Homo sapiens: one gene and its partner. The protein of the gene in region 2 purifies or fractionates together with the protein of the main gene of each other region. This does not show direct contact. Each region holds a gene or a part of one and is shown on either strand. Other genes may lie near its edges. The genes, in order: LMF1 and LPL.

Evidence for each region.
Region 1: the proteins of LPL (region 2) and LMF1 purify together in Homo sapiens (affinity purification with western blotting, with the first as the bait; one study listed by BioGRID). This does not show direct contact.

The regions. Positions count from the first base shown.
Region 1 is NC_000016.10:957,447-961,262, forward strand, and holds part of LMF1 (lipase maturation factor 1), read right to left. Parts: intron 1-3,816. UniProt on the Homo sapiens protein: Involved in the maturation of specific proteins in the endoplasmic reticulum. Required for maturation and transport of active lipoprotein lipase (LPL) through the secretory pathway. Each LMF1 molecule chaperones 50 or more molecules of LPL.
Region 2 is NC_000008.11:19,945,527-19,949,342, reverse strand, and holds part of LPL (lipoprotein lipase precursor), read right to left. Parts: intron 1,164-3,816; coding exon 1,003-1,163; intron 1-1,002. UniProt on the Homo sapiens protein: Key enzyme in triglyceride metabolism.

The DNA of each region.
Region 1 (3,816 bases), on a different chromosome or scaffold from region 2:
ATCTAACTATATGAAGAGATAGACCATGTTCATGGATTGGAAAAATCAAAATCATTAAGGTGTCAATTTGATCCATAAATTCGGCACAATCTGAACCAAACACCCAGTCAGTGCTTCCGCCGAGGCTGACAAGCTGATTCTAGAATATACATGGGAGAGCAAAGGGATTAAAAAGCCAAAATCATCTGGAAAAGAACAGAGGTGGAGGACTCATGTTACCCAATTTCAAGACTTACTAAAAAGCTAATCAAGACCACATCAAGACAGCGCAGTATTGATTAAGGAAGAGCCGCAGAACTCAATGGAATGGAAGAGACGGCCCAGACACAGCCCCCCTGCCCCCGACCCGACACACAGAGTGAACAAATTCTGACAAAGGTTCAAAGGCAACTACACAGACAAAGAGCAGCCTTGGGCCGGGCGTGGTGGCTCACACCTGTCATCCCAGCACTTTGGGAGGCTGAGGCAGGAGGATCGCTTGAGCCCAGGAATTCCAGAGCAGCCTGGGCAACATAGTGAGACTCAGTCTCTACAAAATAAATAAAAAAACAAAGAAGAGTCTCTGTAACAATCATGTTGGAACAGATGGATGTCCACATGCAAAAAGATGGACCTGAACACACTTCACACCTTACACAAAAATTAACCAAAAAGGATCATAGACCTAAATGTAAAACATAAAAGCATAAGACTTCCAGATGGAAATATAGAAGAAAATCTATGTGACTTGGGTTTGGCAACAAGTTTTTAGATACAACACCAAAAGCATAATCTATGAAATTAGAAACTGTAAATTGAACTTTATCAAACTGAAAAACTTTTGATCTGCAAAAGCTACTTTTAACAGAATGAAAACACAAGCCGCAGATTGGAAGAAAATACTGGCAAATCACACATCTGATAAAGGATTTGTATCTAGAATATTTAAAGAACTTTTAAAATTCAATAATTAGAAAACAAACAACCCAATGTTAAAGGTGGGAAGAAAAAACCAGGCCACAAGGTCTGAACAGACATAGGAAGGTGTACGGATGGCAAATAACACGTGAAAAGATGCTCAACATCCTTCATCACTGCGGAAATGCCCATGAAAACCACAGCGTGCTGTCACCACACACACGTCACATGGCCGAAGTGCTTGAAAACGGACAGTGCCCAGGCCGGGCGCGGTGGCTCATGCCTGTAATCCCAGCGCTTTGGGAGGCCGAGGTGGGCAGATCACCTGAGGTCAGGAGTTCAAGACCAGCCTGGCCAATGTGGTGAAACCCCGTCTCTACTAAAAATACAAAAATTAGCTGGGCATAGTGGTGCACACCTGGAATCCCAGCTACTCGCAAGGCTGAGGCAGGAGAATTGCTTGAACCCAGGAGGCGGAGGTTGGAGTGAGCCGACACAGCGCCACTGCACTCCAGCCTCGGCGACAGAGTAAGACTGTCTCAAAAAAAAAACCAAAAAAACAAAACAAAAAAAACACGAACATGGACAGTGCCCAATGCTGCAGAAGGTTCGGGACAGCAGGAGTGCCCTCGCTGTGCCGGGGATGCTGTGGCCTACCACTGTGGATGGCAGACGGTGGCATCTGACCCAGATAATGAAGGGTTACCTTACAAATCAGCTACTGCACCTCTCAGGCCTTCAACCTGAAAGTGTGCTCGCACAGAAGCCTCATGCAGATGCTCATAGCAGCTCTGTTCATAGCCACTAAAAACTAGAAACAAGGAAGACATCCTTCACGGTGGAAGTGGATAAATAACCGGAGGTGCATTTGTGCAACAGAAAAATAATCAGAGATAAGAATGCAGCTGTTGGTTCAGGCAATAACATGGATGAATCTTAAGTGCATTTTGCTAAGCAAAAGAATCTAGACCCAACAGGCTATATACTGCGTGATTTCATTCGTATGTCACACTGGAAAAGGCAAAACCAGAGGGACGGGAGACAGACCCGGGCGTGCCAGGGGCTGGTGCAGGGGAAGTGGTCACTCCCATGCACGGGGGACTTGGGGCTGGAGCTGGGGTGATGGAGGCAAAGCCCACAGCACTGAGCATTACACGAGATGAACTTCAATGTGCACAAACTATTGGGGGAAGACCCGACCAGGAGGTTGGGGGATGCAGATAGAATACAGGCTCCACACGCACGGATGTGAAACAGAAACACACTGGCCAGAGGGCAGGAGCCGCCTAAGCAACTCCGGAAAATGTTCTGAGTGGAGACCGCAAGGCCAGAAGGAGCTGTACACAAACGCTGCACTCCAGGGCTTTCCCCCCCGGGCCTGGGTGGACAATTCTCGCACGTGCACCAGGGCTGAGCAGATGCTAGAGGAGTCAGGGGAGCCAGGTTCCCACTAGCAGAGAGGGAGGATTCAGATGGGCCAGCAGGGAAGACTGGAATACACCGTGTGCCAGGACGGGAGGATGGAATACACCATGTTCCAGGACGGAAGGCTGGAATACACCGTGTGCCAGGTGAGAGTCAGAGTCATCGGCATGGACCAGGTTGACCTTCGTATACTTACAGATGGATAGGTGGATACGACAGAGAAGCAATCAAATGTGTGAAATGAGATAGTGACACACAGAGCCTAGCTCTACCCAGGAAGAGGGCCAGCAGCTGTGACACCCCGGGAGCAACGGCCCTCCCAGTGCCCAGACTGAAGTTTCTATGCTCCCCTAAAAAGAACCAGGGCTCCTTGGAAACAACTCATTCTAGGGCTGGGGCAGAGAAACAGAAGCTGGGCCGGAAGCATCCCTGCGGGGAAGGAGGGGAAACCCACCAGTGGTCAAAGCTGGAGGAGCTGAGCAGCAAACTCACAGTGACAGCACTGGATCATAACCCAGACAAAGACTCACAGTGACAACACTGGATCACAACCCAGACACAGACTCACGGTGACAGCACGGGATCACGACCCAGACACAGACTCACGGTGACAGCACGGGATCACGACCCAGACACAGACTCACGGTGACAGCACGGGATCACGACCCAGACACAGACTCACGGTGACAGCACGGGATCACGACCCAGACACAGACTCACGGTGACAACACTGGATCACAACCCAGACACCATCTCATGGTGACAACACGGGATCACGACCCAGACACAGACTCACGGTGACAGCACGGGATCACGACCCAGACACAGACTCACGGTGACAACACGGGATCACGACCCAGACAGACTCACGGTGACAGCACGGGATCACGACCCAGACACAGACTCACGGTGACAGCACGGGATCACGACCCAGACACAGACTCACGGTGACAGCACGGGATCACGACCCAGACAGACTCACGGTGACAGCACGGGATCACGACCCAGACACAGACTCACGGTGACAGCACGGGATCACGACCCAGACACAGACTCACGGTGACAGCACGGGATCACGACCCAGACACAGACTCACGGTGACAACACGGGATCACGACCCAGACAGACTCACGGTGACAGCACGGGATCACGACCCAGACACAGACTCACGGTGACAGCACGGGATCACGACCCAGACACAGACTCACGGTGACAGCACGGGATCACGACCCAGACAGACTCACGGTGACAGCACGGGATCACGACCCAGACACAGACTCACGGTGACAGCACGGGATCACGACCCAGACACAGACTCACGGTGACAGCACGGGATCACGACCCAGACAGACTCACGGTGACAGCACGGGATCACGACCCAGACAGACTCACGGTGACAGCACGGGATCACGACCCAGACACAGACTCACGGTGACAGCACGGGATCACGACCCAGACACAGACTCACGGTGACAGCACGGGATCACGACCCAG
Region 2 (3,816 bases):
TAGTCTCATCTCTATAAAAATTGTAGCGATTGTCCTCTTCAGTCAATAACAAAGCCACTTAAATTATGTAGGAAAAGAAATGTGGACTAGATGAATGTTATTTTTAGTTAGTTCTCACTAGAAATTAGTATTATAATATTCACAAGCTCTGACATAATGGATAGATAATATATCTTTAACAAGCCATTTTACACAAATCCTTTTAAATAAATTACACAGTCTACTCACTTGGGATTGAAACATTTTAAAACAAACTAAGCAAGAACTACATAATCTAAAGTGACTGTGTGACATATTAGAGAGGGGACTTTTAACAATTTTTTAAAGTAAATTTAATCACAGTTTCACTTTTTCTAATCATCTGGCATGTCAGCATGTCAGTTCCCTGCCCAGCCCTTTTTTTTTTTAATTTCCAGAAAGGCTCCCTAAAGTTTACAACTGGAAAATTTTGGAAGTAGAGTGTTTTTAGGGACATCTAGTGCAACCTCTGCTTTACAGATCAGTAAATGGAGGCCCAGAGATGACAAGTGACTTGATCCACAGCACAGAGCTGGAGAATGGCAAAGCCAGCATGGACGCCACACTTCCTCACTCCACTCCAGCCCTCTCCTCACTCTTCCATGCTGTCTTCTTTAGAAAGGTTCTCCTGGCAATGTGCTGGGTGATGCGGGATCATGCCAGGGTTCCACCGGTTCCCCACAGCAATCACCTATCTTCTGCTCAGTAGCTGGGCAGAGCATCCTTTACCAACCTCGCAGGAAGCTCTGGCTCAAGGGCACCAACCAGGTACAGTGTTAAAATGAAGGCTGGCACTGCCTAGGGGGAGTTCTCATGAACCTGTGGCTTCAGATCCCACCTGAGCCAGAACTGTCTTTATTCAAGTGTAAGGAGATCCACGTGAGATGTGGGGTGCGGACCCATCACTGGGTCCCCAACAATTGGGCAGGCCAGTCAGGATACCTCACCACCCCAATCCACTCTTCCCCAAAGAGCCTCCCTTACCGTCCAGCCATGGATCACCATGAAGGTTTTGCTGCTGTGATTGAAATGACAGGTAGCCACGGACTCTGCTACTCCGGGAATGAGGTGGCAAGTGTCCTCAGCTGTGTCTTCAGGGGTCCTTAGGGCAAATTTACTTTCGATGTCGATAAAATCTCTTCTTTCTGGAAAGGAAAAATTGGATATGAGGTTAACTGGAGGGTTGCTTGATTTTATTCATTGGAATGATATGTTTTAGGTTCACAGGCAACCACCGCTGATGCTATTTTTGTTTCTGAAGTGTTTTCGAAAACGAATGTGGATTGCAAGAGAACAACAGATGCTCCAACGTTGAGCAAAGTTGACAGAGAGACAACCTTAACTCTGAATTAAGATTGTCACCATTGACCTCTCCTAAGTCTTCCAGCCTTTCTTGAAGCTCTCCTTAGTCAGGGTATGTGTGTGTACGTTTGTGATTTCAACTAAGGGAACTGCTGTTTGGGGATTCCTTAGTTAATTCTGTCTTCTCTCAAGACATGAATTTAAGTGACTTGGCTGAGGCTACCCTGGTATTAGTGGGAGGGTGAGGATCAGAGCCCGGTCTCTCAGTTCCACTTTGAAGCTTGCTTTCGTGGAGAACACTGACTCATGCATGGCTCTTGTGTGCTATAGTTCCACTATTTGTGTGTGTGTGGGGCGGGGGGGGGGTTGTTTTGTTTTGTTTTGTTTTTTGAGACAGGGTCTTGTTCTGTGTCCCAGGCCAAAGGAGTGCAGTGGTGCGATCTTGGTTCACTGCACCCTCGAACTCAAGTGATCCTCCCACCTCAGCTTCCTGAGTAGCTGGGACCACAGGTGCGTGCCACCACGCCAGGCTAACTTGTATTTCTTGTAGAGATGAAGTTTGGCCATGTTGCCCAGGGTGGTCGCTATCTCCTGGGCTCAAGTGATCCACCCGCCTCAGCCTCTTAAAATGCTGGGATTACAGGCATGAGCCACCGGGCCTGGTTAATTTTTGGATTTTTAGTAGAGATGAGGTTTCACCATGTTGGCCAGGCTGTTCTCAAACTCCTGGCCTCAAGTGATTTGCCCACCTCAGCCTCCTAAAGTGCTGGGATTACCAGTGTGAGCCATCGGGCCGGGCCTCTATTTTTAATAAAATAATTTAAAAAAAATTTTTTAAAGAAAAGTTGGAAGCATGAGGAGGCTTTTGTATGAAACTGTTCCCACTCCTATGGCAAGATATACTTCAAAATGTTCTAAGAAATAATTTAGTAGGTTGTTCAGAAATACCCGTGCTATGTATCAGCCATGGTTAATTCTCTCCCCAAATATTTCTTTTCCCACTATGTCATTACAATGTTCCACACAAAGGCAAAACTTGAAAACCACAGCAAACCTTGTTGTTGAAAGGGTTCACTTTGGTTCTTCATAGTTAATCCCAAACTTGGTGAGAAGAGAAAGACAACCTAGTTTTTGAAACTATGGACAATAGTTATAAATGCTGCTGAATCTTCATGGGGTACAGTGAATAGTTGAAGTAAATTATATTGCAAATAAAATCAGACTTCATGAAGCAGAGCACAATCAAAGGGAAGTTATGTTAAAGGGAAATCATTTAATTCCTTTTCAAGTAAAGAAGTTAAAGAAAACGACCCATAACACCCACCTATTTACTGTAAGAAGGTAATAACTTGTAGATTTTAGATTTTGCCGTTCGAAATTTCAGGAGATTCATGAGGCTGCGAGGACTACTTCTCATTCCTTAATCTAAATTTGCTCTTTTTTTTCAACTCAAAATTTAAAAATCTGTAACTTCAAAATAACTGCGGAAGTCAGGCCAATAATAAAAATAAGAGTGTCATAGTGAGAACAGTGAAAGAATAGGCATTTGAATCAGCCTTATCTAAATATCTGAGGATTGGCCAACATTTTCCTATTGAGTAATTATTTTCTAAAATTCCTTAAACAATATTGTGGTTTAAGAAATATGCAATGAGTTGATCACACACACATACACACACACGTGCACACACACCTCCGTCATCTAAAATGTAGGAGAAATTTCTTAATGATTCTAATTATGAGAAAAGGAGTTTTGTTACAATGGGTAAACACTCCAAGATCACTTATTCAAATAAGAGTCTTGCTAAACTATTGATCTTTAAAGCTCTTTTCATTTGCATATAGTAAAAGTACACGTGAATCCATTCATCCACCAAGAATATGCTCTACTTCTCATCTTTATTTGAAGATGTTGGTAGCCTTCTTCCTTCCCAACCAGAAAGCACTCTAGTAGCTTTACTATTTCTCTGATAATGGAAGAGTATTGAATACTTTTAATCTAATTCTGCCTTCAGTGCCCAAGAACTTCTTTTCCTGTTAAAAAGTGCTTTAGAAAATTTAAAACTAATTTCACCCTCTCCCACACCTTTCCACCTTAAATAGCTCATACCTCCTCTCCACAGGTCTTATTTTAACATATTCTATGATCAATCTTTTTAAAGCAGAGATGATGTGAACAATCTGGCAGACAGATCTCGCTTACCACCTATTTGCCAAATTGACATTTTAAGAATAATGCTCAGTATAACTCCAGAGGCTGCCATTCACTTTTAGTCCACTTTCCCCTAGAATTATGCAACTTGGTGTCCCTGGAATTGCTGGTGGTTTTGAAATGACCACAAATTTTCTTTGAAATGACTAAGACTGGCTTTGTGTAGTTCCATGAAAAAAAGTCTATTCAATCCATAGATCCTGTACCAGATTGCATGTATGGCTCACTGACAGCTCCAATTTCCCTCTGTTGGGTCCAGAGTATGTAATGAAAAGTAGGAAATT